Homo sapiens: one gene and its partners. The protein of the gene in region 7 purifies or fractionates together with the protein of the main gene of each other region. This does not show direct contact. Each region holds a gene or a part of one and is shown on either strand. Other genes may lie near its edges. The genes, in order: FAIM, HAPLN3, ENTPD7, P2RX4, SLC30A6, BDH1 and B3GALT5.

Region 1 (4,150 bases), on a different chromosome or scaffold from region 7:
TTCAGAAAAGAACCATCTGCTTTGAGTGTATGGTGTAAAGCATTCCTAAAGTGTGATCTGTGGACCAGTAGCATTAGCAGCACCTAGGGAAATGTTAGAATTAGCATTTTAACAAGATTCCAGGCAATTTCTGTGCATGCAAGTTTGAGAAGCAGTGATAACGCACCACTTCAAATGGATCAACACAAGAGGACACCAACCTCTGGGGATATAATTTTTTAACTAGGGGCTCTTTTTAGGTATTTTACTTGCTATGCTGGAGCCTGGTCCAGGACAGGAAAGGGAGAGTATGAAGCTAGTGCCAGCTAAGAACATGAGTTGTTTCCAAACTCACGGTACCAGGCACCATCTGGCAAAGGTTTTCAGAATCTGAAGTCAGGAGTACTTAATCCCTTTTTTGTTTTTATCAAGAGGGCCTTGATTCATTATAAGATCTCTATAATTAGGAAATGCAGCAACAATTCAATGGTAACTGAGACACATGGCACTTAGAGTCATCAAATAGTCAACTTACCGCTGTCTCCAATTTTTTACCATTGCACCATACGTCCATAGCATCTTTTTCTGTAAAGGTAACATAAAAACTTTAAGTTATAATTCTGTGATTTAAAGATAAAGTTAACTTTTCCTATTTATTACTTTAGGAAAGGATTGATATACCAGATCTCTAAAACTCCATTAATATTCCAAAACCCAACACTTTTTCATGGCTTTCATGGCTTGCAGACTCTCCTAAAATTTGAAGAAGCTGTGTTTGTTCTTTGTTCATAAAACTATAATGAAACAAAACAACCTTTTAAGAGAAAGTTATGGTCTTAATACAAATTGATGAAGCCTTATGAAACAAAATGAATCCAAAAGGACAATCTTTAAAGAAGGATGCATACAGGCCGGGCGCGGTGGCTCACGCCTGTAATCCCAGCACTTTGGGAGACTGAGGCAGGCGGATCACAAGGTCAGGAGATCGAGACCATCCTGGCTAATACGGTGAAACCCCATCTCTACTAAAAATACAATAATTAGCCGGGCATGGTGGTGGGTGCCTGTAGTCCCAGCTACTTGGGAGGCTGAGGCAGGAGAATGGCGTGAACCTGGGAGGTGGAGCTTGCAGTGAGCCGAGACCGCACCACTGCACTCTAGCCTGGGCAACAGAGAAAGACTCCATCTCAAAAATAAATAAATAAATAAATAAATAAATAAATAAAAAAGAAGGATGCATACAGATGAATGTGAGGAGGGACCCTTCCATACAAAATGCCCTTCAATATTGACCAGATGACTCCCCTGCCTCCCACACTCACCCAACTGGGTGATGGCACAAAAGACCACTGAAAGCAGCTGCCACGGGATTTATATAGGATAGACAGCATGTCCGCTTTAGAAATCTAGTCCAGCTTCTTACTAGGTAGTACAATAATGTCTATTCCTTTTCATAATGGTTTCAGTTTAGAGAAAAATTATTGGATTACAAGTAAAAAATAGGTATAGCTGGTGGACTGCACACTAAGGAACAATATGGAACAAAATGCTGCCCCGACACACTTAAATGGATCAGTTAACTTGCCATAGCTCATCTCAGGGTGGAGGAGTCCCCAGAGCCCCTTGCAAATGTTAGTGTCCTCAGGAGTAGCAGGAGAGAAGACTACACTAATCAAGAAGCCAGAAGTTGAGCTTTGGGTATTACAGTGAAGAAGAGAAGGAAGTATGGCCTGTATGTGCACAAGGAGTCTGGGGGTCAGGTTTGAGGCACCAGTCCAGGGTCTTACTGCCTGGCCATCTGCTCCAGGAGCACAGTCTAAAGGGGGTTCTTTCTCTCCCCATACCTTGAGATGGGAGCCTCACTTAGAGATGGGAGAAAAGCCTTTGAGGTGCGCTAGATGGAAAAAGAGAAAGCCAGAGGGGTCCAGGAGATATGGGCAGGGGTCACCTCAGTGGCAGCCTTCATAGAAAGCTGCTATAGTCACAGGTGCAGGTAAACTCAACTTGTCCCAAGACATGATCAGTGCACACAGTGCTATGATAAACCACGATGATGGTAGAAACTGGTATTTTACTTGCTATGCTTACTGAACATGTACGTGTACTCAGAGTTTCTACAATAGCGTATTAGCATGCCTCTGAAGAACACTACTAATCCAGAAGCCCTAAAAGAAAATGTATTAAATTTGACTACATAAAAGTACAAAAAAAGGCCAGGCACGGTGGCTCATGCCTGTAATCCCAGCACTTTGGGAAGCTGAGGCAGGCAAATCACAAGGTCAGGAGTTCAAGACCAGTCTGGCCAACATGGTGAAACCCCGTCTCTACTAAAAATACAAAAAATTAGCTGGACGTAGTGGCGGGCGCCTGTAATCCCAGCTACTCAGGAGGCTGAGGCAGGAGAATTGCTTGAACCCAGGAGGCAGAGGTTGCAGTGAGCCAAAATTGCACCACTGCACTCCAGCCTGGGCGACAGAGTGAGATCCTGTCTTGGGAAAAAAAAAAAAAAGTAAAAAAGCCACAGCACAATTGAAGAAAAATGCACACACATTAGCAAAGTCATGTAATAAATGACAAACTCTGAAAAAAATATGTCAAACTCACAGCATGAACAAAGGACTAAACTTACTAATGTGAAGACTATGAGAAATCAAGGAGAAAAAGACCAACAACCAAAAGAAAATGGGGCAAAGGGCATGAACAGGCATCATGAGAAAGGAAATACAAAAGAAACTTAAAACTAAGATGCTCAACCTCACTTATGAAAAAGACAAAAACAACCCTGAAATACCATTGCTTCACCTAGCAGAATGCCAAAAAATCCAAAAGTTTGGCTACATGTTCTGCTGGAGAACCTGGGGAAAATAGCTAACGGGGGTACAAAATGGTAAAAGTACCATGGAAGGCAAATGGGCAAAATCTATTAAGATGACAAATACAATTAGTCTTTGACCCAGAAGAATAGAAGTCCTACTTTCCTACTTCCAGAAATGTGTACTAATATAATATGTGTCCTGTTCCAAGAGGCATGCAAACAAAGCTATTCATGCAGCATTGCTTCTAACAGCAAAAGATTAGAAACAGCTCAAGTGTTCATCAGTTGGGAATGAGCTAAATACACCATTTACTATTGAAATTTACTCTGCAGCTATAAAAAATATGAAAAAGTTCTTTAGGTTCTGATATAAAAGGATCTTCGGAATATAATAAGTGAATAAAGCAAGATGCTTTTATGTGGTAAGAGAGAATATGTGTACTCGCTTGAATCTGAATAAAGAAACACTAGAGTGACACTAAAAATGGTTATCTTGATGGGGGAACATGGCAGATGGGAACAGGGATGGAAGCAAGACTTTTTAATGTGTCTTTTAATAGCATTTTGATTTCTGAATCTTGAGTATGTAACCTATTCAAAGTGGTATGTTAATAAAAGGACATATCTAGCTGATAAAATTTCAAATCTATTATGACTCAGTGCTGGATTTAGTGACTCATGGGAGTTGCTGCTGCATGTTCATCTTGGAGCATCTCCTCTTTGCCTGCGGATTCCCTCAGCCGCATGAACAATAGCTAGGGACTTCCCAGGTGAGTCCTGAGCAGGTTATGTTCTGTAAATGCTATCAAAGAGAAACTTTTCAGAACAGAAAGAGAATTTCCTTCCAGCGTGAAGTTTCATATGTACTTTCCTCCTGCCAGCTTTATTTTCCTCCCATGGTATTCAGTGGTGTGGAGACTACAAGAGCTGAGAATGCTAACCAACCCTGTTTTCATTGCCCTTATATGCCTCACATTTTTTAGGTGGTGAAAAAAAATGCACATGATCTTTGAGGTCAGCTCTCAGCATCACTCTTTACTAGCAGTACCCTTTGGCAAGTCACCACCACTCTGAGCTTCCATTTCCTCAGGGGCAAATGAAGATGATACCACCTTTCCCATAGGCTGTTATAAGGGTTAGAAATAATTATATAAAGTGCCTAGTATAGTATCTGGCACATAATATGACCTTAGTAAATCATAATGTTTTGTTATTCAAAGCTTTTTTGTGGCCTTGCTCTAATTTCTCAATATAAAATTTAGCAAGTCATATAATATTGTTATTTGAAACTTGCCACATAACATACAAGAGTGAATTTTACCAGGAGACTCTAGATAAGCCCATTCTTTGCCCATG
Region 2 (4,150 bases), on a different chromosome or scaffold from region 7:
TGCTCCACCCCTCCCTGTATCCACATGCTCTGCAATGTGACTTTGCATCTCCTTCCATCAAGAGATGACAGTTATTCCCCCACCCCCTTGAATCTGTGCTGGCCTTGCCACTTGCTTGACCAACTGAATGCCTTGGAAGTGACTGTTATCCATCATGCCTGCTCTGAGCATAGGTCCCAGGGGGCCTTGCTGCTTCCACTCTTTTTTTAGGACTTTGCCAGCCACCATGAGCACATGGCCAGGCTTGCCTGCTAGAGGATGAGAGAATACACAGAACAGAGACAGGGCGCCCCAGCTGAGGCCATCCTACAGCAACCAGCCCCCAGCTGACCTGCCCACCATGGGCAGGCACATCTGCAAGACCCAACCGCAAGACCTGAAGAAATGGAGCCCACTCCAAAATGCTGACCCACAGAATCATGAGCTAAACAAATGGCTGTCATCCTAAAGAAGTCACTAAGTTTTGGGTGGTTTGCTATGCATAAAATCTAACCAATGGAGCAGGCAACAAGAGCCACCCCACATGAGGTACATGGCCAGGACAAGTGGCCCTGATAGGGATCCGTCGGAGTTTCCTTCCCCACCACACTGGCCAGAGGACAGCACAGCCCTGGCTTTACTCTCTGGTCCAGCTGTCCACCATAACTCTTCCCAAATACGGAGCAGCCTACTGAGCTAAGGGCAGAACTTCTAAAGGAGACTACGCTCACGGCTCAGAGTTACAAATACACACAGAACTCAACATGCAACAAAAGAATCAAGTTCATAGGCTAAGGCTGCCTCATCTTTAACTTGGGAGCCCCTGTTGGGACCTCACTGATTCATTCTCTTGGGTCTAGACTTCAAGACATGCTTGATTTACTCAAGGTGGGGACAGGGGCCAGGCACGGTGGTTCACGCTTATAATCCCAACACTTTGAGAGGCCAGGACAGGAGGATCGCTTCAGCCCAGGAGTTTGAGACCAGCCTGGGCAATAAAGTGAGACCCTGTCTCTACAAAAAAATTTTTAAAACTAGCTGAGTATGGTGGTAGATGCTTGTGGTCCCAGCTACTCGGGAGGCTGAGGTGGGAGTATTGTTTCAGCCCAGAAGTCAAGGCTGCAGTGAGTCATGATCGCACCACTGCATTCCAAACTGGGTGAGAGAGCAAGACTCTGTTGCCAAAAACAAAATAAAAACAAATTAATTAATTAAAAAGGTGGAGGCAAGGGGACAGCCTCATGGGTAAGCAGGAGACAGACAGGGAGGTTCCCTGTAGAGGAATCGTGCTAAAAAAGAGCTATACCTAATGTAGCAGATTGCCATATGCAGAAGTCTCCAAGTGTGGCCCTCGGGCCAGCAGCATTAGCATCACCAGGAATTTGTCAGAAATGCACATTGTGGGGTCCCAGTGCCTCAGAGACTCTGGGAATGGGGTCCAGCCTCCAGGGGACTTTCAGGCTCATTCAGATTAGAGCTGTCCTGCTCTGCAGAGGCAGTAGGTACAGAGGTTTGGAGTCAGGCAATTCGGGCTTGCCCTTGGTTCCACCTTTTCCCAGCTGTGTAATCCAGGGAAGTCAAGACTCAGCTTCCCCATTTGTAGAATGGGTTAATTACAGTCCCTACAGAGGGCTGTGGTAAGGTTCAAATCAGGTAAGGCAGGATGCCTGGCACACAGAAAGTGTCCAATAAATATGAAGCAGGGCTATCATTTAGGGGCCACTTCCTTGGTTCTTCCCAACTCTCTTAAGTAAACTACCTTTGAAGCTTTAACCTGAATAAAATGAAAATGTACATCCATATGATAAAATACTATACAGCCATGTAAAATAATCTGGTAGATGTACATTCAATCATTGACTTAGAAAACGAGTTCTATTCTATGAGGTGATAAGGGAGAATACAAAAATCACATGTATGACATGAGCTGGTTTTTGTTGGAGAAAGTTTTCTAAATCATAAAAGAATGGCTCAGCTAGGTGCAGTGGCTCACGCCTGTAATCCTAGCACTTTGGGAGGCCAAGGCGGGCAGATCACTTGAGGCCACGAGTTCGAGACTAGCGTGGCCAACACGGTGAAGCCCCATCTCTACTAAAAATACAAAAATTAGCTGGGCACAGTGGTGCACGCCTGTAGTCTCAGCTAACTCAGGAGGCTAAAGTGGAAGGATCTCTTGAGCCCAGGAGGCAGAAGTTGCAGTGAGCCGAGATCACACCACTGCACTGGTGTGACAGAGTGAGACCCTGTCTCAAAAAAAAAAAAAAGAAAAGGCTAGAAAGAGATACCTAAAAAGTTAACAGTGGTTCCCCTGGGTGGGGGGATTATATATGACTTTGCTTACATATTCAGGGACAAAAGGGAAAGACAAAAATGAAATGTTGGCCTGGTAGTGTAGTGAAACTATGAGTAGGAAGTTTAAGTTTTTTAAATTCCGCAAATCTCATTAAAGTAGTGCTTGTAGGCCGGGCACGGTGGCTCACGCCTGTAATCCCAGCACTTTGGGAGGCCAAGGCGGGCGGATCAGGCGGTCAGGAGATCGAGACCATCCTGGCTAACACGGTGAAACCCCATCTCCACTAAAAATACAAAAAATTAGCCAGGCATGGTGTCGGATGCCTGTAGTCCCAGCTACTCGGGAGGCTGAGGCAGGAGAATGGCGTGAACCCAGGAGGCAGAGCTTGCAGTGAGCCGAGATCGCGCCACTGCACTCCAGCCCAGGTGACAGAGCGAGACTCTGTCTCAATAAATAAATAAATAAATAAAGTAGGGCTTGTATAACAAAATAAATTCTGAAGGAAAAGGGTGTGGTGGGCTAAATAATGGCCTCCCAAAATACCCTAAATCCTAATTATGTAGCAAAATGGACTTTGCAGATGAGGTTAAACTAAGGATGTCGAGATGGGGAGGGTATCCTGAATTTCCCAGGTGGGCCCTAAATGCAAATGCGCAAGTACCTGTTTAGAGGGAGGCAGAGGGAGATTTGCATATAAAAGAGGAGAAGACCACGTGACCAAGGAGGCAGAGCCTGCAGTGAGGCAGCTACAGCCAAGGAATGCCAGCAGCCACCAGAACCGGAAGAGGCAAGGCAAGAACAGATTCTCCCCAAGAGCCACAGGAGGTACAGTCCTATCCGCACCTCGATTTCTGCACAGTGAAACTAATTTTGGATTTCTGGTGCCTAAAGCAGTGAGAGAATACATTTCTGTTGTTTCAAGCCACCAAGTTTGTGTTAATTTGTTACAGCTGACCTAGGAGACTAATCAAAAGAGGGAAAATGCCTCTGCAGGCACAATCATCTACTCAAAGGCAGAGGGAAAGGTGAGAAACACCCAGCACTGCACTTGCAGGCTCATGTGTCGTCTCTGAACCAGGCTGTGCGCTCTTCATGGCAGGTGCTGGCTATTACTGAGACCAGCCATCTGGTTCGTTCCTTCCACAAACAAGTGGAACAAGTTTGTTGTTGTTGTTTTTGAGGCAGAGTCTCACTCTGTCACCCAGGCTGGAGTGCAGTGGTGTGATCTCAGCTTACTGCAACCTCCTCCTCCCAGGTTCAAGCAATTCTCATGCCTCAGCCTCCTGAGTAGCTGGGATTACAGGTGCACGCCACCACACCCGGCTAATTTTTTGTTTTTTGTGTTTTTTTTTTTTTTTTTGAGACGGAGTCTCACTTTGTCGTTCAGGCTGGAGTGCAGTGGTATGATCTCAGCTCACTGCAACCTCTGCCTCCCAGGTTCAAGCAATTCTCCTGCCTCAGCCTCCTGAGAAGCTGGGATTAAAGGCACCTGCCACCACGCCCGGCTACTTTTGTATTTTTAGTAGAGACAGGATTTCACCAGGTTGGTCAGAATGGTCTTGATCTCTTGACCTCGTGATCCATCCACCTCGGCCTCCTTAAGTGCTGGGATTACAGGTGTGAGTCACCGCGCCTGGCCAATTTTTTGTATCTTTAGTAGAGGGTTTCGGTATGTTGGCCAGGCTGGCCTTGAACTCCTGACCTCAAGTGATCCACTCACCTCAGTCTCCCAAAGTGCTGGGATTATAGGCATGAGCCACTGCACCCAGCCCTCAGCTTTGTCTTTTTAATAGCTGTTTGACCTGGACAACTGGATCAACTCTCTGAGCCTAGTTTGCTCATCTATGAGAAGGGATGATAATAGAATCTACTTTCAGG
Region 3 (4,150 bases), on a different chromosome or scaffold from region 7:
CATTAGCTGCTGTGCTTCCTTTTCCATTTTCTTCTTTTGTTCTACTCCTTTCTTTTCTGTCTGCTGTTTTCTGCTGCCTCCAAACTACTTCTTGCCAGACTGCATCTTCTTCCCATGCGTTGGTATTTTCTTGCCAAGTAGCTAAGTCACCTACATCAGGTGACTGATGAGTAAAAGGCATATCTTGTGTAGCTGCCAGTCTATTAACCTATTTCCTGAGATGGCAAAATGATCATTGTCTCTTCTCAATAACAATTTTCTGAGTTTTCCTTACAGTTGGTGTCACATCCTTAAAATAGTCGGTTCCAGTTGTTGTAAAGTGTTCTGTTGTACTGCCTCATTCCATTCTCACCCTCGGTCTTTACACCTGTGGGCGCATCCTCATTCTAAGAAGTCCACTCTTCAACATCTGTCTGTTTAGGAACTGATGAATAATTAACTGCAATTGGCAAAGTTACTTGGACCCCAACTTAATTTCTGTCCTTGGACAGATCTTCATACTCATCATTTTGAGGAATGAGAATATGGTTGCTAGGCAAGTATAAACTCAAAATAACTGGACCTGTGTTACGGCCATGGTGGGAATCAAAGCTTTCCAGTCTTCTCCCCACTCAGAGGCTCCAGGCTCTGCAGGTGGCTTCCTGGAGCTGGTGCTGTGCCTGTTCTGTTCCAGCACTGCTCATTCAGAGGCAGGCATGGGCTCCATCACCATTGCCAGCCATTGCACATGGGCCACTGCCGTGGTCTGCTCTTCAGGAATCTCTCCCCACAGTCCTTCCCACCTCACCCCCTACCAGTTGTATTTTTAAACATTAGAACCACACTCCGCACGATAAGGTCCTTGCACTTTTAGGAGGTACGTGGGAATGAAGACCAGATGGAGAACAGCAGATTCACATCTCCAATTTCACTACAGACTAGGAAATACACATGTTGACTAAAATGTCGAACAGAATTGATCACCATATTCCTCTCTTTTTTTTCTAAATTTAACTTGCTGAAGTTAAATGTTTATGTGATGAAATTGCACTCCATCCTCGTTTCTAGAGATATCATGAAAACCAGTAGTAAGATATTTCTGATGCACATTGTGTTTCTTAGACTAGGTTGAATACAGGCATGACGTGTTTGTTTGTTTGTTTGTTTTTGTCATTGTGGCAGATTGCTTGGTCAGAAGACAGGTCTGAGTCCCGACAATCCATTTCTGGATCCCTGCCTGCCAGTGGGACTCACAGATGTGGTGGAGAGGAACAGCCAAGTCTTACATGTCCGAGGAAGAGGAGACTGGGTGTCTTGTGGGGCAATGCTGAGCCCCCTGCTGGCTCGCTCCAACACCAGCCAGGCCTCACTCAATGGCATATATCAATCGCCTATTGACTTCAACAACAGCGAGTTCTACGGCTTCTCTGAGTTTTTTTATTGTACAGAGGATGTGTTGCGCATTGGTGGCCGCTACCATGGGCCAACATTTGCCAAGGCTGCTCAGGTAAATTATTAATGATAAACATGGCTTATGCTGGCAGCAGCCATTTATTGAATGCCTCACTCTGTGCCAGGTGCTGTGCAAAGGGCTTTGCATACAGAATCTCACTTGTTCTTTGCAGGAGCCCTTTGAACACTCATTTTACAGATGAGGAAGTGGACAGAGAACTTAAGGATCTAGCTATGCTGTACTGCCTTCTAATTAACTAAATTTATTTTCCATGGATGTCATACCACCCAAATTATTACCCAGGCATAAAATTTTTGTGTTGGCTAATGGTTTTTCTTCCAACTTTCCAATAGTCTTGTTTAATGTTTATGCCCAAGAAATGTCACCTCCAGTATTTTTCCTCTTGCTAGCTATTTTCTGTTGTAATGTGCTTTTGGAGATGATATCACCCAGAGGGGCAAGCCCATCTTTCTTTTGGGTTGAGGTATTAAGAGGCAGAGTGGTATGGGGTCCCTGGGAATATTAGATGTTGTAAAAAGCAATGATGGTGGAAGTTTGTTTAGATTTAAAATAGAGGAGTAAAAATTCACTCTGAGCATATATAGGACTTAAGCATCATATAAGTTTAAATCATTGGTACCTGGACAGATGAAAGTTTAGCCAGCTTTCTATCATTTTCTGCTTTATTTAGGGCCATCTCTTTGAATTGTTGCGTGTCTCTATCTTTTTCATCAGAGAAACGAATGGGAGAATCTGTCCTCATATTTCTTTTTTTCTTGAGATGGGGTCTCGCTCTGTAGCCCAGGCTGGAGTGCATTGGCATGATCTCAGCTCACTGCAACCTCTGCCTTCCGGGTTCAAGTGATTCTCCTGCCTCAGCCTCCCGAGTAGCTGGGATTACAGATGCCCACCACCATGCCTGGCTAATTTTTATTATTTTTAATAGAGATGGGGTTTTGCCATGTTGGCCAGGCTGGTTTGGAACTCCTGGCCTCAGGTGATCTGCCCGCCTTGGCCCCCCAAAGTGCTGAGATTACAGGCGTGAGTCACCGTACCCAGCCTCTCCTCATATTTCCCTCCCTCCCTCCCTTCCCTCCTTCTTCCCTGCCTACCTTTCTCTTTCTTTCTTACAATTCTCTAGGGTTCTCTTAGTGTAAGGCTTCCAGCAAAATAATATCTGCAGTATCTGTACTGTTCTGTTCCCAAAAGACAGTCCTTAAGAAATACTGTGGGACACCTGGTTTGTATTTGCTCCTTTCTCTCCAGCCTCCAGGACGACCTTCACGCTCCCTGTTTTTCTGGAGCCCAGAGCTCCCTAACTATCCATGGCCTGACTCTTTCTCTTATCTCAAAACTTCTTCAAATTCTATTCCCTTGAACACCAAAAGGCTCAAGTTATTGGGCTTAACATATTATCTTTTCCAGGTAAAAGCGATTTTTTTCCCTTACCTTTTTAACTTTGACTCAAACGTTATCTTCCCAGAGCCACCTTCTGGGACCACTCTATCCAAAATGACAACGCTCCCCATATTACCTGTTGCCCTTTCCTGCTTTATTTTTCCCTGAGCATTTATGTTATCCAACGTACCGTGTGTGTGTGTGTGTGTGTATGTGTGTGTGTGTGTGTGTGTGTGTGTGTGTTTATTGTCTGTCTCCTACCACTAGAATGTAAGCTTCCTGAGGACAGGAATTTTTGTCTGTTTTATTTACTGCATGATTCCCTGGCATCTAGAACAGCACCTGGCACATAGCAGACATACAAACCAAAAGGAATGATTATTTTGGTGAGAATTACAACACCGAGGGAGGCCAATGACAGGTTTCTAACCATCCTCTTCCATCTGCTCTCCCTGCTCATGTCAGTCCTATGTGGAGTAGAATGAAACTATCTTTGTCTTTTGACGTTGCTATTTGTTAGTCCTAACCTCAGCCCCTCTGAAGCCTAAGAGGCTCAGAAGCCACATCAAGCTGGCTTGGTGCTAGACATGGGATGACGGGAATAAACAGGGGTATGACGCAGTGTTTAGTGAATGAACACACCATTTCTGTTTTCCTTTGTCAGCTGGTAGCCCACAAGTAACTTTAGAAATGGAACAGCTGTGACTGTGGGGAAGGTAGAGAGTTTGCCTCCAAATTCATGTTGCACTATTTCTCTGTGGTTGATCCAGGATTACTGTGGCATGGCTTGGTCGGTACTAACTCAGAGATTCAAGAATGGCCTCTTTTCATCACATGCAGATGAGCATCGACTCAAGTAAGTTACTTCCCTTTCCTCCTTAGATGTGGACTTAAAATCTAGATGGCAGATTATAATGGAGAGTGAGCAATAATGCAGATTAGATTTCATGTTGAGGGAGCATTTGATTATTCCAGACTTGATTTTCTCAGGGATAGGGGCCAAAATAGTGAGCCTATTATAGCAAAGCCAGAAGAAATCAGTGGTTACCAAACAGAGTTCTCAACAAGTGATTTGACAACAAAAGTGATTTTTTTTTTTTTTTGAGACAGAGTCTCACTTTGTTGCCCAGGCTGGAGTGCAGTGGCATGATCTTAGCTCACTGCAACCTCCGCCTCCTGGGTTCCAGCGATTCTCCTGCCTCAGCCCCCCAAGTAGCTGGGACTATAGGCACGTGCCACCATGCCTGGCCAATTTTTGTATTTTTTTGTAGAGACGGGGTTTCGCAATGTTGCCAGGCTGGTCTTGAACTCCTGAGCTCA
Region 4 (4,150 bases), on a different chromosome or scaffold from region 7:
CCTGGGTGACAGAGCAAGTCACTCCCTTAAAAAAGAAGAAAAAAAAAAAAATATATATATATAATGGCTATATATATAATGGCTATATATATATATACACATATATACATATACATATATGAGAGAGAGAGAGAGCGAGCACGCGAGAGAGCGCACACGCATGAGCAGGGGATGGATGGTTGGTGAAGAACCGTCAAGACATACCATCTGCTGCCCCATGTTCTCCAGGGATCCATCAGGAGCCTCGGCCCGCACCCTAGCTCCATGCTCTATCTGGCCCACAACTTCCACGCCATGGGCCAGGCCTGGGAGACACAGGCAGGGCCTGGTGCTGCCCGAGGTTGGGGGATAGGCGTCCTGAGTTCTTTCCGTTTTAGGGCTCTGACCTAAGCTTGAGGTTTCCACAAGAAGTGTGTGACAGTAGAGATGGAATAACACAAATCTAACTGCTAGAAAAGAAAAATTCAAATATCTGCTTTACTCAGTGAGCCAGAAGGTTCAAAAGGACAGCAGATCCCACAATTACAGAGGTCTTAGGATCCCGTATGGATCGGATTCCACACGTCACCACTAGGGGGAGGCAAGTGCAGCCCAAAGCACCGCTGACCGCGCCCAGGGATGGTCCTTGCAGGGCCTCTTTTTTTTCCCCCTGAGACGGAGACTTGCTTTGTCGCCCAGGCTGGAGTGCAGCAGTGCGATCTCGGCTCACTGCAACCTCTGCCTCCCTGGCTCAAGCGATTCTCCTGCCTCAGCCTCCCAAGTTGCTGGGATTACAGGCATGCGCCACCATGCCCAGCTAATTTTTGTATTTTTTTTAGTAGAGATGGGGTTTCGCCATGCTGGCCTCAGGTGATCTGCCCGCCTTGGCCTCCCAAAGTGCTAGGATTACAGGTGTGAGTCACTGCGCCCGGCCTGGAGCGCTTCCTTTTTAAGGACTGTGAAAAATGCAACAAAGGGTACGTGGAAATTTACCTGGCTATAGATTCTGATCATGAGATCATCAGCTGTAGTGGGTTGAACAGTGTGTCCCCAAAAATTCACATCTACCTGAAGCTTGGGAGTGTGACCTTATTTGGAAATGGGATATTGGCAGACGTAATTTGTTAAGATGAGGTCATACTAGAGTAGGGTGGGCCCTAAATTCAGTGACTGATATCCTTACAAGAAGAAAAGACACAGAGACACATACAAGGCAGAAGGCCTCATGACAGGAGAGGCAGAGACTGGAGTGATGCATCCACAAGCCAAGGAACACCGTGGGCTACCAGAAGCCAGGAGAGACAAGTAAGGACTCTCTCCAGAGCCTTCAGAGCGAGCACAGCCCTGCTGATGCCTGGATTTTAGGTTGTGGCCTCTAGAACTGTGAGAACTGTGAGAGAATCAAGTCCTGTAGTTGCAAGCCACTGTTTGTGGGACTCGCTTACATCTGCCCCAGGACACCGAGATGCCAGCATTTGCAGCAGGGAACCCAGCAAGGCCTTTCAGGGGCCTCAGACCTGTGTCCCCTGCACTCTGGAGATTCTGGCACAGGTTCAACCTTTGAGAAACCAATTCCTGGGCCAGGCCCCAGAGGCCTTTGGACTGGAGGATCACAAGATCATCCGCTCCTTGAGGCAGTGAATGGAGGTCATGGCTGAGGCAGGTGCTGGAAAGCTTAAGCCCCCAGCTTCTCCTGGCTGCTCTAAGAACCATCTCAACATGTTTCTTGCGGCAGGAAAGGGCAAGGAGGGGTCTCGGGGGCCGGGATGGCCCCGGAGCAGGACACCACTAAGGGCATTTTCCCAGCATGGCCTTCCCGCCGCCTTGGACGGGGGACCGGCAGCCTGCCCTTGGGGTGCTGCCTGAGTGCTGGTCTTCAGTGGGCGGCCCACTGGCACGTACGCAGCCACCAGCACCCCCTACAACATGAGCGAGGGGCCCAAGCTCACGCCCACCTGAAATTGTAGCCAGGAGATACGTTGTGCTCAACGTCCCGTGTATCGAGGCGGCGGAAGGAGTACCTGGGCAAGCAGAGGGAGGCGGCTCTGTCCAGGTTGCAGTCCCAGTTGACCTGGATGCCCATGATGCCTCCCTGGGGATGAGCAGCAGAGACACGGCAAGGCTTTCCTCAGCACCTGGCACGAGACGCCTCCAGGGCTGGGTCAGGAGAGCCAGGGCCCGCACCCACCTCCACGGCCATGTCCTGGAAACTGTGTCCTGCGTTCTCCACTATTTTGCCAAGACGGAATATGGGGCAGAAGGGATCTGTTTTAGCATCATAAATGCACGACTTGAGGTAAGTAGTGGTGATGTTGGGAAGGATATTCCTCCTAAAGTCGAGAGGAAGCAGAAAATCAGAGCGACGAAAACCTCAGAGAAGAGAGAAGAGCCAGAAGTTTCTCCAAGACCCTGGTGAACTCACACACCTGGCCACCACTTACTTGCTGAAATTAAATTTGGGATACCAGATGTTGTTCTTAACCAAAAGAGTGAAGTTTTCTGCAGCCTTTAAAAAAGCAGGTCTGAAAAACAATGATAACATTACTGTTAATAAAATACATACAAATACTCACATAACCATGTTATATATATATATATACACACATATATATATGTATTGTGTGTGTGTGTCTGTGTGTGTGTGTGTGTATATATATATATATATATATTTTTTTTTTTTTTTTTTTGAGATGGAGTCACTCTGTCACCTCGAGTGCAGGCTTGAGTGCAATGGCGCGATCTCAGCTCACTGCCACCTCAGCCTCCCGTGTAGCTGGGATTACACAGGTGTGAGCCACTATGCCTGGTTAACTTTTTTTGTATTTTTAGTAGAGACAGGGTTCCACCATGTTGGTCAGGCTGGTCTCCAACTCCTGGCCTCAAGTGATCCGCCTGCTTCAGCCTCCCAAAGTGCTGGGATTACAGGCATAAGCCATCACGCCCAGCCTATATATATTTTTGAGACAGGGTCTTGCTCTGTTGCCCAGGCTGGAGTACAGTTGCATGAACACAGCTTCTTGTAGCCTCGACCTCCCAGGCTCAGGGGGTTCTCCCACCTCAGCCTCTCAAGTAGCTGGAACTATAGGCATGCATCACCATGCCTGGCTAATGAAATTTTTTTTTTTTTTTTTTGTAGACATGAAGTCTTCCTACATTGCCCAGGCTGGTCTTGAACTCCTGACCTCAAGCAATCTTCCTACCTCCGCCTCCCTGTGCTGGACTACAGGAGTGGGCCACCATGTTCAGCCCCTATGTAATATTTTTAAAAACATATACACACATCTTACAATGTCATTTTGTCAAGAAGATGAAACACGTCTAGCATTTTCTACACCCTTCTGCATGCACACTCTTCTCTTCCAAGAGAAGACACTGAGCCGAGCCTTCCAGGTTCTTCCCCTCAAGGAAGGGCAGGCCCTCTCCCCCAAGGCGGTGAAAACTGAATTGCTAACCAGGGAGGGGATTTGTGGCCTCACTGGAAATCAGTAGGCCTGGCTTTGGGGCCGCAGGCGTTCTCCAGGGAGAGAATGAAGGCTGGGCAGATCCGGTTTTACAGGTCAAAGCAAAAGTAAATTTGCCTACAGGCTGGATCCTGACCTGTCTGAAAAGTGCACAAAGCACCCGCCAGCAGGTGCGCCGGCCTCTTCTCAGAAGTGCCACGTCAGCTCCTGGCTGACAATACAAGTTGAATCTGTCCCCAAGGGGACTCCATTTCTTTGGTGAATTTCTCCTGGAGAATCTGGCACTGTATGGCTAACCCTTCTGTGGGGGATGTTCCCCTGATCCAGGTGGGATCTTTGGAATGACAACATCAACAGTCTTCCCAGCCCTGAGACAGGAGCAAGGTCAGTGACAGGGCTGCACTCGGAGGAGAGCTGAGCCTGTCACCACTGCTGTCAGAGAAAGGCTGGGACCAAGGGGCTTCTCTCAGGTTTTTTTTTTTTTTGAGATGGAGTCTTGCTCCTGTTGCTCAGGCTGGAGTGCAATGCCGCGATCTCGGCTCACTGCAACCTCTGGGTTCAAGTGATTCTCCTGCCTCAGCCTCCCGAGTAGCTGGGGTTACAGGCGTGCACCACCACGCCTGGCTAATTTTTTCATATTTTTAGTAGAGATGGGGTTTCACCATGTTGGTCAGGCTGGTCTCAAACTCCTGACCTCAGATGATCCACCC
Region 5 (4,150 bases), on a different chromosome or scaffold from region 7:
TGGGCGCCTATAATCCCAGCTGCTTGGGAGGCTGAGGCAGAAGAATCACTTGAACTCAGGAGGCGGAGGTTGCAGTGAGCCGAGATTGTGCCACTGCACTCCAGCCTGGGCGACAGAGCGAGACTCCATCTCAGAAAAAAAAAAAAAAAAAAAAAAAATACAGAAGTTAGTTGGGCGGGCCAGGCGCTGTGGACATGCCTGTAATCCCAGCACTTTGGGAGGCCGAGGCGGGTGGATCACAAGGTCAGGAGTTCAAGACCAGCCTGGCCAACACAGCGAAACCCTGTCTCCACTAAAAATACAAAAATTAGCTGGGTATGGTGGCTTGCATCTGTAGTCCCGGCTACTCAGGAGGCTGAGGCAGGAGAATCACTTGAACCTGGGAGACGGAGGTTGCAGTGAGCCAAGACGGCACCATTGCACTCCAGCCTGGGCGACAGAGCAAGACTCTGTCTCAAAAAAAAAAGAAAAAGTTAGCTGGGCATGGTGGCACGCGCCTGTAGTCTCACCTACTCAGGAGGCCGAGGAAGGAGAATTGCTTGAGCCTGGGAGGTGGAGGTTGCAGTGAGCTGAGATTGCGCCACTGCACTACAGCCTGGCAACAGAGCAAGACTGTCTCAAAAAAAAAATAACTAAATAACTAAATAAAATAAATAAAAATCATAGCATTTATAATAGGGTGGTCATTAGGCCATTACCTTCCACATTCACTTCAAGTGAATTTGATTTCCAAATTGAACAATTCCTCATATTTTTCCACGTTTGCCACTATATTATGGCTCCTAGTATGTTATTGTGAAGAACATGAACTTCCCTCAAATAAAATTCTAGGTAGAGTTGAATAAAGTATTAAAAGTATCCACCTTTTCAATTCCCTGATATAAAATAAAATGATTTTATTTACTATTCCATCTTACCTCTCTGATGAGTTTGTCCAACTGACCAATAACATGGGGTGGTGTTGTCTGGGGAAAAATACAATAAAATATGAATAATGGGGGAAGGAAAAAAGTTTGCCAACAATGGTCCTGAACCCCCTCCCCAAAAGGATTTTAAGCCAGCCTTTGCTTTGACAGCTGTCCTATCATGATTTAGAGAAGAGAGGTTTCAACTGGCCCCACTAGTGGAACAACATCATCAACTGGCCCACACCTGTTTTTTTATCTTGAAGATAAGATAAAAAGATAAATAACACTTAAACAACCAACCAACCAACAAAAAATCTTTGGGAAATGGTTACAAAGGTCGTATTTTGTATAGGGCATAGCACTATGCAACTATTATCTTATTTTTATTTTTTCTGGAGATGGAACTACTGCCCTAAGTCTTGGAAAAGGCATAGGGTAAGACAGAAGGAACCACAGTGCTTACACGCACATCCGGCCCTGGGAAACTGCCTTTTTTTTTTTTGGAATCTCGCTCTGTCGCCCAGGCTGGAATGCAGTGGCGCAATCTTGGCTCACTGCAAGCTCCGCCTCCCGGGTTCAAGCCACTCCCCTGCCTCAGCCTCCTGAGTAGCTGGGACTACAGGCACTCGCCACCATGCCCGGCTAATTTTTTGCATTTTTAGTAGAGATGGGGTTTCACCGTGTTAGCCAGGATGGTCTTGATCTCCTGACCTCGTCATCTAACCACCTCGGCCTCCCAAAGTGCTGGGATTACAGGCATGAGCCACCGCGCCCGGCCGGAAACTGCCTTTCTATTCATATTCAGGGTGTTCCTATCATTTCAGTAAGTAGCAATGTGTCATTTAAGATTTTAAGTTTGAAATTTTAAAGTCTCACTGATTCAGTGGCAGGAAATAATAAAATAGTCATAAGCAGATTACACAAAAGCCAAAGCACATTTACTGAGGGAAAATAAATATCTAAAAAAAATTTCAGGCCGGGTGCAGTGGCTCACGCCTGTAATCCCAGCACTTTAGGAGGTTCAAGGCGGGTGGCTCACCTGAGGTCAGGAATTTGAGACCATCCTGGTCAATGTAGTGAAACCCCAGCTCTACTAAAAATACAAAAATTAGCCAGGCGTGGTGGCACATGGCTGTAGTCCCAGCTACTCGGGATGCTGAGGTAGGAGAATCGCTTGAACCCAGGAAGCAAAGGTTGCAGTGACCTGAGTGTAGCGCCACTGCACTCCAGCCTGGTCAAGAGAGAGAGACTCTGTCTCAAAAAAAAAAAAAAAAAAAAAAGAAGTAACATTCTTTTCACTTGAAAAATAATAATAGCTTTAAATTTGTGATTTTGTCACAATATAAATATAGGAAGATTTGTGACTATTTTACTTGCTAATGGACTTTCATCAGGTTCTGACTATATGAATGTCAGAGATTATTGTTTGACTTCATTTCTAGCAGGGGCTTCCAGTAACTAAAAATTTCACAATCTGTACTGTTAAAGGGAGGGCATTAAAAAAAATGTTGTTTTGTTTTTTTGAGATGGAGTCTTGCTCTGTCACCCAGGCTGGATGCAGTGGTACAATGTCAGCTCACTGCAACCTCCGCCTCCCGGGTTCAGGCAATTCTCCTGCCTCAGTCTCCCGAGTAGCTGGGATTACAGGTGCACGCCACCACGCCCAGCTAATTTTTGTATTTTTTTAGTAGAGACAGGGTTTCACCATGTTGGCCAGGCTGGTCTCGAACTACTGACATTGTGATCTGCCCGCCTTGGCCTCCCAAAGTGCTGGGATTACAAGCGTGAGCCACCTCTCCTGGCCAAAAAACTTTTGTAATTAAAAATTATGACTGGGCACGATGGCTCTCGCGTATAGTCCCAACACTTTGGGAGGCCGCAGCAAGAGGATCATTTGAGCCCAGGAGTTTGAGATCAGCCTGGGCAACATAGTGAGAGCCCATCTCTACAAATATTTTTAAAAATTAGCTGGGTGTGGTGGTGTGTGCCTGTAGTTTGTTACTCAGGAGACTGAGGTGGGAGGGTCCTTTGAGCCTGGGAGGTCAAGGCGGCAGTGAGCCGAGATCCCACCACTGTACTCCAGTCTAGGTGACAGAGCAAGGACCTGTCTCTAAAAAAAAAAAAAAAAAAATTAAAATTAAAAAATAAAAATAAAAATTTCACAATCTTGTAGAACAACACATACAACTTTTTAATCTGGTAGAAGAACATGGCTAATATTAAGCACGTGCATTGGAAGAAGCACCTTACCTGGAGTAAGACTTTCCCACTGTACACACTCATGGGATACATAGTGCCAAATGTCATCAAGGCAATAGCTATAGCAGAGGCAGTGTCTACGGCAAAATAATTACTAAAAGGAAAAAACAATTCTAAATTTTAAATTTATATCTCACTGGGCATATTACAATTAAATCTCCTGAACATTAATTATCTAAAGCAACAGGACTGAGCAACAGGACACAATTTTATCACAATTGGCCACTACTTGCAAAGAAACATTTCAAAGAAAAATACTCCAGTTTTTAGAATTCTTTCCTTTCAAAGTTTAGTGGAAAAATAACTAATAATTATGTTAATTAGTAGGAAGAGGTATGATGAAAAAAAATGTGGACATTTCCCCGTCAGGCATTTTTTTGTCAAACTATCTGTCAACTAGAAAGAGCTGAAATATGTTTATTTGCTTGAGACAGACAAAAAACTTCAACTAGTAATTTTTTTTTAAAAAGAGACAATAAAAAGAGGTTTTTTAATTCAAAGGTATAACTGGTAAGTAGATCTGTTTACAATCATTCTTGTGAAATACTTTTTAAAAAAATATGACCAATTTATTTGCAAATAGCAGACACATACCTCAACTATGATGACCTAATTTTTGGTGCATAATATACATGATTAGGCAGAAATAGGCAACCTCATACTGGTAGATTAACTATCAAATAGTCAAAACTCCGTTTGTGGCTCCCACTTCTTGATCGATTTCTATTCCCTCTTCATCTTCTACCATCTTGTCAACTTCCTGAGCGACTCCCTTGTGGACTCTGTCTAACTGACCGGCTGCCAGATCGACCACCTGATCGGCCCGACTGGCCACTTGACCAACCACTCCTCTGTCTGGAATTAGAAGATGTGTTTCTATCATAATATTCTTCAATTTCAGGTAATTTGGCTGGCACTGAGAATATCCAGTCGGAATCATGCCACTCTGCCTGTAACCTTTCTGACTTAGTTGTAGGAACATC
Region 6 (4,150 bases), on a different chromosome or scaffold from region 7:
GGCTCCAGGGAGCTCCATCCCCCACTGCTGTATTCTACATGAATGGCACCCCGAGGTTGCAGACAGAGCTCCTCCCACAAGGCCCTCCACTGGCTGAACTGGAAGGATATTTTAGTCCTTATGCTACTGGAACTTTCTGTAGCTTTTGACCCTGTTGGCTACTGGTACTGCCCTCTCCTCCAAACTTTCTGTTGTTTAGCCTCTGGGGAACTGTATCCAACCTCTCTGACAGCTGCCTCTCCCCCTCCTCTGATCCCCGAACACTCACATTCCCAGGGGTCCCTCTGTGCATCTCCCCGACTCCCAGTGTCACCTGCCGTGGGCACCTGCTCTTCTAGCCTGGACATTCCCTCAGGGTGGGCGCTTCAGTGTCTCCCTATCTCCCCACCTGCTCCTGCAGTGCGGGGCACCAGGTGTCCAGGACAGAGACTTCGCGCCTCACCTCATCCCCACATCCAAGTCACCAAGTCCAGGCAGCTTCGCCTTCTCAACACTCCTCGCACCTGACCCTTCCTGTTTCCCAACACCTACCACCCTAGTTCCGGAGTCCAGAACCCATGTTTAACTCCCGCTTTGAATCCACCTTCACATTGCCACTGCCATCCTCAGAGGGAGATTCACAAGTCTCACAATGACCAGGCCATTCCCTCAGGATGACCCCTTCAGTGGCTCCCCAGTGCCATTGGGAGACCAGCCATGTTCCCTCGCCTGGGATCCAAGACCTCCCTCCCCAACCTCCTTTGCTGCCACCCCCTCTGCGTGACCTGACCCATGACTCATATTGAGGTGCCGGCTAATCCCACCACTTGACCAACAGCCCCCGCTACCCTCCCCGTGCTCCTCGAAGCTGTGGTTCCTGCTCTCCCCTCCTCTTGGAACAACCATATCTGCTCTCTGCCACAATCTGCCTTAACTGGCCTATTTCCACTGCGCCCCCATGGCTGGACTGACCCCTCCTTCCTGTGCTGCTCTGCCTCTCTCAATGCACGGCTCCCTGATTTTGAACTCAGTCCTCCGGCTGAACTATGAGGTCCTGGGGACAGAATGTGCCTTGACCATCTTTGTGTCCCTGGCACCCAACCCAGCTCCTGGGCCAGAGGGGGCATCAATGGGCATTGGCTGAACTGACCTGAATCAGTGCGTAGCCACCTAGCACTCCGTGAACTCTGAAATCACCTCCTGACTGTATTTTTCCATTGCCCTATTGCACGTGTATGTTTAGTGTAATCCTCTTCCTCCTACTGTGCAGGAGGAAGAGCCTAAACAATAAGGAAGGGAGTGTGGTGGCAGGATGCCAGCCAGTGGAAGGTGGTGTTCGGCAAGTGCCCCTTGGAATGGCCCCATACACAACCCCTGCCGTCCGAAGGGGCGCCCTACCTTTCTCAGGGTCCTTCAGGCTCGAGCGGACAATCTCCACCACTTTCTCCACCTCTTCGCTGCTGCAGACATTGAGCTGGACGGTTCTCAATCGGTCACTGTTTAGGCTGTCCAGCTCCTTGACCCCATCATGGCCTTTGTCCTGGGGAGGAGAGAAGAGCTGCTTCTACCTCCTTCCTTCCCACCCTGAGGCAGACCCTGAGGACTCCTGTCAAGGCAGGAGCTGGCCTCAAGTCCCAGCCAAAGCCTCAGGCATACTGGCAACTGCCCATGGGCCTGGCCCACCAGCATGCGGTTCTTTTTAATCCTGAGCACTGATGACCTATCAAGCATCAAGCTATGTGCCACAGACACAACCATGAATAGGATGAAGAGCCGGCCCCCAAGGCCTCAAGACAGGATTCCTTCTCCAAGCAGGGGTTGCAAACTTATGTGGGGCAGGCGGGGGCCCTGGGGAGTACAGGACATGTCAGGAATTACCACGTGGGGATGGAAACCCAGGGTTGCCAGATGCTTACATTTTTAAGCTAGTAATTGGGAAATCTCTTCATTCTTTTAAGTGTTGGCAACTTACACACATTTAAAAAAAAAAACAAAAAAACACTGTGAAGGCCAAAGCACGTCCACAGGCCACATAGGACCAGCAGGCTGCCAGTTTGCCACCTCTGTTCTAAGCCAAGGGCCCATCAACTCCAAATTGGTAAGAGGCCAGAGCCAGCCTCTAATCCCAGCTCAGTCACTGAGTAGGCTTTGTGCACTCAGGGGTGTCCCTGAACAGGGGTCCATTTTTTCTGGCTGTAAAACAGGAACATCACCACCTGTCCTGACCTGCTCAGATTAATGGAGTAAGGAAATGGATTTGTAAGAAGCCTGTTAAAGAGTCTAAAGCACCACACAAATTCAGGTACTGCTAAACAGGAGAAAGGCGTCACTCGCTCGGCAAACATTTCTTGGGCCCCTATCGTGTTCCGGCACTGTGCTAGGAACTGGAGGTCAAGATCAATCATTCAGCCCCTGTTCCCAGAGTCGTGTTCTAGGGAAGGAGACAGGTGAGCACGTAAGCGACACAGTGACTGTGTGCTGTATGGAACCTGGCGGGAGGTGGGAGGGGCACAGGAGGGACGGGCAGGGGAGACCTTCCAAAGGCAGTGACAGCTGAGGACATTCACAAGAGGGGGCCGATGGGGACGGGGCACTGTGGGAAGAGATAAGAGGACGCCACCAGAAGCCATTGGTTGCAGGCAGTGCAGACGCATAAGGAGGTGGTGGATGCAGGGCTGGAGAGGAGGGCAGGGGTCTGCTTGTGGGCACTGCCGAGCTGCTGGGGGGCTTTCCTCTAAGTAGACAGCATTTCCCGAGTGTCCACTGTCCTGAGCACTGTGCTAAGTGCTGATGTGCTTTGTCACGTGCACCCTCGTGTCACCAGGCAGGCTGCATTGTCACATTTCATCCTATTCTATGAAACATGGTTTCTTTCACAATAGGGATGAGCTACACTCGATGTGAAAATTAAACATAGTTGGTCATAAATGACTTAATTGGCAGCAATTTTCCTGAATGGTGCATGGCATAGTGACACCTCTTGTAAGAGGACAGGACTAGCAGCCAAGAGTAAAGGGGTAGAGAAATGCCCACTCGCCAGCCAAGGGCTTGCCCATGGCACACACAGCTGCTACTGAAGCAAACATCCCAGGCGCGGGCAAGGGTGGAAAGCCCAGGACGGTCAGCACTTGTCAGGGGTGGAAAGTCCTCCGCTGGTTAGGCTGAGCCTTCTGAATGCTTTCAACCAGAAGAACCCCAACCCCGGGAATGGAGAAATCACATCATGCAATTTCAGAGGGCACAGGAGGAAATGGTGAAGGGACTGCCCAATGGGGCCGGAGGTGCTGGACGTAGTCACCCCGGAGAGAAGACTTGAGTGGAACATGACTGAGGGAGCCAGCTTGTTCCATGCAGCCACAGAGAACAGAGCCAGGACCAAGAAGTCCAGCTCAGCTCAAAATGAGGCGTGATCTTCACAGTCTGGAGATGGCATGAGCTGCCTGGAGGTGTTGAGGCAATGAGTTGGGGTGGGGGGTTGTTTGGAGGTAGGAGGGATGTTTGGGGGTTGGGGGGATGCTTGAGGATGGGGTGTGGGAAAGGTGGTACAGAGACAATCCCGGCATTGGACAGGAGGTCGGGCTGATCTCCCCTACCTAACACCGCTTCCGTTCCTGGACTGTCGTCTTCACCGCCTGGTTTTCCATGGAAAGGAAGCCTCCCCAGTGGCCCTTTGAAAAGGCACTGTGGCGTGGCCCGCTAAGTCTCTGCAGAGGCACCAGGGATGCCTTCGGACACAGCAGCCAGGCCGGAGGCTCGATGGTCTAAAGTTTGGCTCTGAAATCCCCTAGGTGCGCCGACCTTCCCAAACAAGACGCAGGCATGAGATGCACGGGACAGATGGGCCTGGAGCTCAGGCTGTCATTCCCACAGAGGACTCCACCAAGAAAGAACTAATGCATCTTCAGGTCTAGGGTGTGATGACGTGGTGCCTGCAGACCCCTCTCTTCCACAGGCGGCACACAGGTACCAGGAAAACACGTGTCTTGCTTTAATGCAGTCTTCCACCTGGTGGCCCTTCAAATGCCCCTTGGCGTGGAGCTCACATGATCTGAACCTCAGAAAGGTGGATTCTAGCTGACATGCACAAGAGGTATCTAAATGTCCTTCCTCTTGGGACTTGGTTAACCCTGTTGCTATCATTCAGCTCTTCTCAGACCCCTATACAAGACCT
Region 7 (4,150 bases):
TGCTGTGTCCTTGCCTGTAAAATTAGGATGGTAACACCCATCATGTCATAGGATACTGACCCCTGAAATGCAAAAATCCAGGTGTATGTCAAACACTTAGTATGAAGAGTGTGCGTGCCCAAGAGACGGGCCTATTATTGCCTGGGGCACCAAGTGGGAACTAATCAGTGACTTCATGAACACCGACATTCTGGCGTGGATTTCAGCACTGAAGAACAGCATCCTCTGTCCCGCCCCCTCTTCCAAAATCTAGCAAAAACTATCCCCACGGGTTATCTGAAACTTGTCCGGATGTGCCTCTGGGCTCCCCTCAGACAGGCGGACAATCTTCCCCCCGGGAATTCTCTAGAGCCTGCCAGTAGTCCAAGAGAGTCCGAGGCTTGATGAAGTGGCAGGCCACGATCCTCCTGAAGAGGCATACGGAGAAGCGTAAGCCCCCTGGAAAAAAGGTCGGCTGGGAGTGGAGCTCCTCCAATCTGATGTTCAGCCTTTCGAGGCAGAGCCCCACAAACACGTCTTCCAGTTTAATGTATGGGACGCTCTTGGAGACATTGTACACCTGACTCGCCACGTCGCCAGAAAACACGTAGCCGGTGCCGGAGCAGAATGGTGGGTACCTGTCCCACGGATATTCAGATTTACTGACAAACCACTTGCTGAATGGCTGCCTGATGGGAAACTCATTGAGTTTCAAGAAGCCAGTGAAAAACCTGGTTGTTCTGTTTTTCTTCAGAAGCAGTTCAGTCAGATAGTCAACATTGATGAACATGTCTGAGTCTGTTTTCATCACAAACGCCGCCTGAGGACAAAAGCGATGGACCCATTCTATGCCCATCATGGTCTTCAGGGTCAGATTGTAATAGACGTCTAGGAAATCCTTCTGGATAATGTCCCCGTGTCGCTGGCTCTCCTGGTCCACCTCTTTCGTTTCCGCTGCACTGCTGGTGGTCCCCAGGAGGAAGAATGTCTTCAGCTGCTTTCCCTTCACCATCCTCTCTTTCCCCCACGTCTGCCGGATGGCCATGCGCTCAGCCAACTGTTTGTGGGATGAGGTCACCAGCAGGACGAGGAAGGGAGGTGTCTGCCTGCAGTCTGTATCTGGGAGCTTAAGGAAGTTCCCGTCTTTCTTGTAAACAAAGGACTGTTCTTTGAAAGGATTTAGACTGTACATGCTAAAATACAAACAAAGAGCCCCCAGAACCAGAAGGCAAATATACATCAATCTCATCTTCGGGAAAGCCATCTGAAAGGAACAAAATCCAATGATTAGACCTCAAAAGCATGAGGATGTGTCTAGTTTTATGCTAGGAGGCTGAGGTGGGAGAGGAGACCCGTGTTTTGGAAACTCTAGAACCTCGCTGCATACAGAAGTCGGGTGCTGTGTGGTTAAACAGTTAAGCACAAAGGTCTAACATCTGCCAGCATCTGTCACTTCATGGTGTAAGATAAAAAGCTCAGAGATTCTGGGCATTGGTCCAGGCTCTGCAGCCCTTAACCTACGGGAGTCTCCAATTGCCTGTCTGTAGGGATATGGCACCAGGTCCCTCACTCGGTCCTCCAGCTCTGCCCTTCTATGACTCCATGATGAAGCGCAGCAAAACAAGCTGCAGGTCTGGAAACCACGCATTGTAGATCTAAATGTATGGACCACTTGCATTCTTCTCTGATCTAATTAAGCAGCATTCCTGCTCCCAGAAAAAAGCAAGTCCAGTGTTCTGATGTGCACAAGTACCTTCAAATTCTGTCTCTGCCAGAATTATTTTTTTTTAAGTTACTTTTTACAGTCTCTGATCTGATTCTTTCCTGTTCTGCCCACCCGTCTCTGCTATCCTCGGCAAGTTCAGGATCATCCATGGTAACGTTATAACATTAAGAAAGCGTATAACTCACTTTTTGCTGGGTAAGAGGAACCTCTGGTTTGAAAGCTAAAGCCACAGTGTAAATGCCAAGAGGAAATTTGTCTCAAAGAACTGTCAGTGTAGAATGCTCCATAATTATCAGGTTCTGGGCTTGGTTTGTTTACCAAAAATGGTGATTCTGACAGGAATCACTAGGAAAAAAAAAAAAAGAGTGTCATTCAAATCACTCGTGCCTTACCAGCAGGCCTTCACAATTTACCGTGTCTGTAGCGTCACCTTCCAACCTACTTATGTGACTCTGAGCACGCATTTGAGCCCCAATCCCAGCCTCACTTTTCTCATCTGTAAAATGGGTATGATCAAGGCAAACAAAGTCCACAACAGTAACAATATGCCAATCCCCCAGAATCCTTCAAGCCTAATAAGTTAGGATAGCACCTAGCAGCTTTTTAAAGAGACATGATAAACTCATAAATTAGAGTCTCACTTCTCATCCTGATAATTTACCTTATTTACATAACAGAGTCTGTAGTTAATGCTGAGAGAATTTAACACAGAGAATAAATCCAATTCTTAACACAATAGCGGCACTTTAAAAATGTTACCCTGGGTGAGAGGACAGAGAGGACAGCAAGAAATGAAACTGAAAGAGTGAAAAGCAGAGTTGGTTTGGGCTTTTTAATTTTAATATTTCAGAGACCTGATGTCACTCTGTCTCCCAGGCTGGAGCACAGTAGCACAATCATAGCTCACTACAGCCCTGAACTCCTGGGCTCAAGCGATCCTCCTGTGACTTGGGTCACAGCTTCCCAAGTAGCTGTGACCACAGGCGCATGCCACCATACTCTTCTAACTTTGTATTTTTTGTAGAGATGGGGTTTCACTATGTTGCCCAGGCTAGTCTCAAACTCCTGGGCTCACGCAGTCCCCTGCCTTGGCCTCCCAAAACACTGGAATTACAAGGGCAAGCCACTGTGCCCAGCCAAGAGCTGGTTATTTTGATGGCCAAAAGAGCACCTGAAAATTTCATTGTCAAAATTCTGTTCTACATATATTCGCCAAAAGCAATAGGAATATAATAATGGAGCTTTCTAGAACCAGCTCGCTCTCCAGGGACTTCTTTCCTGGAGGCAAACTTAGCCAACTACCTGCTCTGCTTGGCACCCCTGGGGAGTTCCTGCCCAGCTCCTGCCCCCAGCAACTTCAGAGAAATCACAGCAGAAGGCAAGCAGGAGACCAGAACTTGTCTGAACTGGTGCTCCAGGATGCTGCAAAGTTTCTTTCTTTCTTTTCTTTCTTTCCTTCCTTCTCTCCTTCCTTCCTTTACTTTTCTTTCTCTTTCTCTCCTTCTTTCTCTCTTTCATTATTTATTTGCATGGCTAAGATATGCAGCTGATTAGGGGGGTTGGGGGACTGCTTTCTCCCCCACAATACATTTTAGAGAGAAACATAAAAACCAAGTGCAAGGGAAAGAAGATATTTTTCTACTTTGTTTCCTTGCTTGAATAATTCTGCTCCTTTTCTATGGGTTGCTTTAACAGTAAACCTTAAATTCTCATTCTCTCTGATGTGCCTCTCCTCAGGACCCTTCACAGGGCTCTAAATTCCCAGGGATGGGCGCTCACCTCATGCAGTGCATTGGCCAAACTGTTTCCCAGGAGGCAGAGCAGGTGCCAAACCCAACTGGCAGAGCAGGTGCCAAACCCAAATGACCCGGGGTCATTTGTTTTCATGGGCAGTTGAACATTTTTCCTGCCTAAAGTGGAGTTACCACCAGAAGTCACAGCTCAGAATCCTCATATATGAGACATCTGCATCTTTGGCTGAGTCTGTATTGGGCCTAAAGAGGACCTGGGGGCCAGCCTTCCACTGAAGGAGGAGGTAGGGGCACCTGCAGCACCAGCAGACAGAGCCTGGAAAGGGCAGCCTGTGTCCCCAGATCCTAGCCACCCCAGGCCAGCTGCAAAGCAGAAGCCCTCAGCACAAGCTAGCTCTGCCTTACCTGGGACAGAGCCATGAACAGGCACTATCTGTGCTACAGAAGCCCTACCTCCAAACACATCTAGACCACCAGGCTGTATGGCCTGACCAGCCAGTCAATAACGGAATGGCAGTTTCTCCAGCAGATTCTGCACTCCAGGTGTATTAGTCAGGGTTCTCTAGAGAGATCGAATCAACAGGTTATGGATAGATAGAAAGATTGATAGGTAGATTAATCAAAAGATAGATAGGCAGGTAGGTAGGTAAGTCGGTAGGTAGACAGATAGATAGATAGACAGACAGATAGATGA

What was found.
Region 1: the proteins of B3GALT5 (region 7) and FAIM purify together in Homo sapiens (affinity purification with mass spectrometry; one large-scale study listed by BioGRID and IntAct). This does not show direct contact.
Region 2: the proteins of B3GALT5 (region 7) and HAPLN3 purify together in Homo sapiens (affinity purification with mass spectrometry; one large-scale study listed by BioGRID and IntAct). This does not show direct contact.
Region 3: the proteins of B3GALT5 (region 7) and ENTPD7 purify together in Homo sapiens (affinity purification with mass spectrometry; one large-scale study listed by BioGRID and IntAct). This does not show direct contact.
Region 4: the proteins of B3GALT5 (region 7) and P2RX4 purify together in Homo sapiens (affinity purification with mass spectrometry; one large-scale study listed by BioGRID and IntAct). This does not show direct contact.
Region 5: the proteins of B3GALT5 (region 7) and SLC30A6 purify together in Homo sapiens (affinity purification with mass spectrometry; one large-scale study listed by BioGRID and IntAct). This does not show direct contact.
Region 6: the proteins of B3GALT5 (region 7) and BDH1 purify together in Homo sapiens (affinity purification with mass spectrometry; one large-scale study listed by BioGRID and IntAct). This does not show direct contact.

What each region holds. Positions count from the first base shown.
Region 1 is NC_000003.12:138,625,521-138,629,670, reverse strand, and holds part of FAIM (fas apoptotic inhibitory molecule 1), read right to left. Parts: intron 565-4,150; coding exon 515-564; intron 1-514. UniProt on the Homo sapiens protein: Plays a role as an inducible effector molecule that mediates Fas resistance produced by surface Ig engagement in B cells.
Region 2 is NC_000015.10:88,881,844-88,885,993, forward strand, and holds part of HAPLN3 (hyaluronan and proteoglycan link protein 3 isoform 2 precursor), read right to left. Parts: intron 1-4,150. UniProt on the Homo sapiens protein: May function in hyaluronic acid binding.
Region 3 is NC_000010.11:99,697,373-99,701,522, forward strand, and holds part of ENTPD7 (ectonucleoside triphosphate diphosphohydrolase 7), read left to right. Parts: intron 1-1,161; coding exon 1,162-1,486; intron 1,487-3,600; coding exon 3,601-3,686; intron 3,687-4,150. UniProt on the Homo sapiens protein: Catalyzes the hydrolysis of nucleoside triphosphates and diphosphates in a calcium- or magnesium-dependent manner. Preferentially hydrolyzes nucleoside 5'-triphosphates, with substrate preference for UTP > GTP > CTP.
Region 4 is NC_000012.12:121,226,884-121,231,033, reverse strand, and holds part of P2RX4 (P2X purinoceptor 4), read right to left. Parts: intron 2,502-4,150; coding exon 2,421-2,501; coding exon of another isoform or gene 2,417-2,420; exon of another isoform or gene 2,406-2,416; intron 2,310-2,405; coding exon 2,168-2,309; intron 2,072-2,167; coding exon 1,935-2,071; intron 1-1,934. UniProt on the Homo sapiens protein: ATP-gated nonselective transmembrane cation channel permeable to potassium, sodium and calcium. CTP, but not GTP or UTP, functions as a weak affinity agonist for P2RX4.
Region 5 is NC_000002.12:32,203,701-32,207,850, reverse strand, and holds part of SLC30A6 (zinc transporter 6), read right to left. Parts: exon of another isoform or gene 3,633-4,150; intron 3,262-3,632; coding exon 3,159-3,261; intron 966-3,158; coding exon 918-965; intron 1-917. UniProt on the Homo sapiens protein: Has probably no intrinsic transporter activity but together with SLC30A5 forms a functional zinc ion:proton antiporter heterodimer, mediating zinc entry into the lumen of organelles along the secretory pathway.
Region 6 is NC_000003.12:197,521,263-197,525,412, forward strand, and holds part of BDH1 (D-beta-hydroxybutyrate dehydrogenase, mitochondrial precursor), read right to left. Parts: intron 1,520-4,150; coding exon 1,378-1,519; intron 1-1,377.
Region 7 is NC_000021.9:39,657,653-39,661,802, reverse strand, and holds part of B3GALT5 (beta-1,3-galactosyltransferase 5), read right to left. Parts: intron 4,019-4,150; exon of another isoform or gene 3,922-4,018; coding exon of another isoform or gene 3,910-3,921; intron 2,051-3,909; 5' UTR 1,891-2,050; intron 1,244-1,890; coding exon 311-1,243; 3' UTR 1-310. UniProt on the Homo sapiens protein: Catalyzes the transfer of Gal to GlcNAc-based acceptors with a preference for the core3 O-linked glycan GlcNAc(beta1,3)GalNAc structure. Can use glycolipid LC3Cer as an efficient acceptor.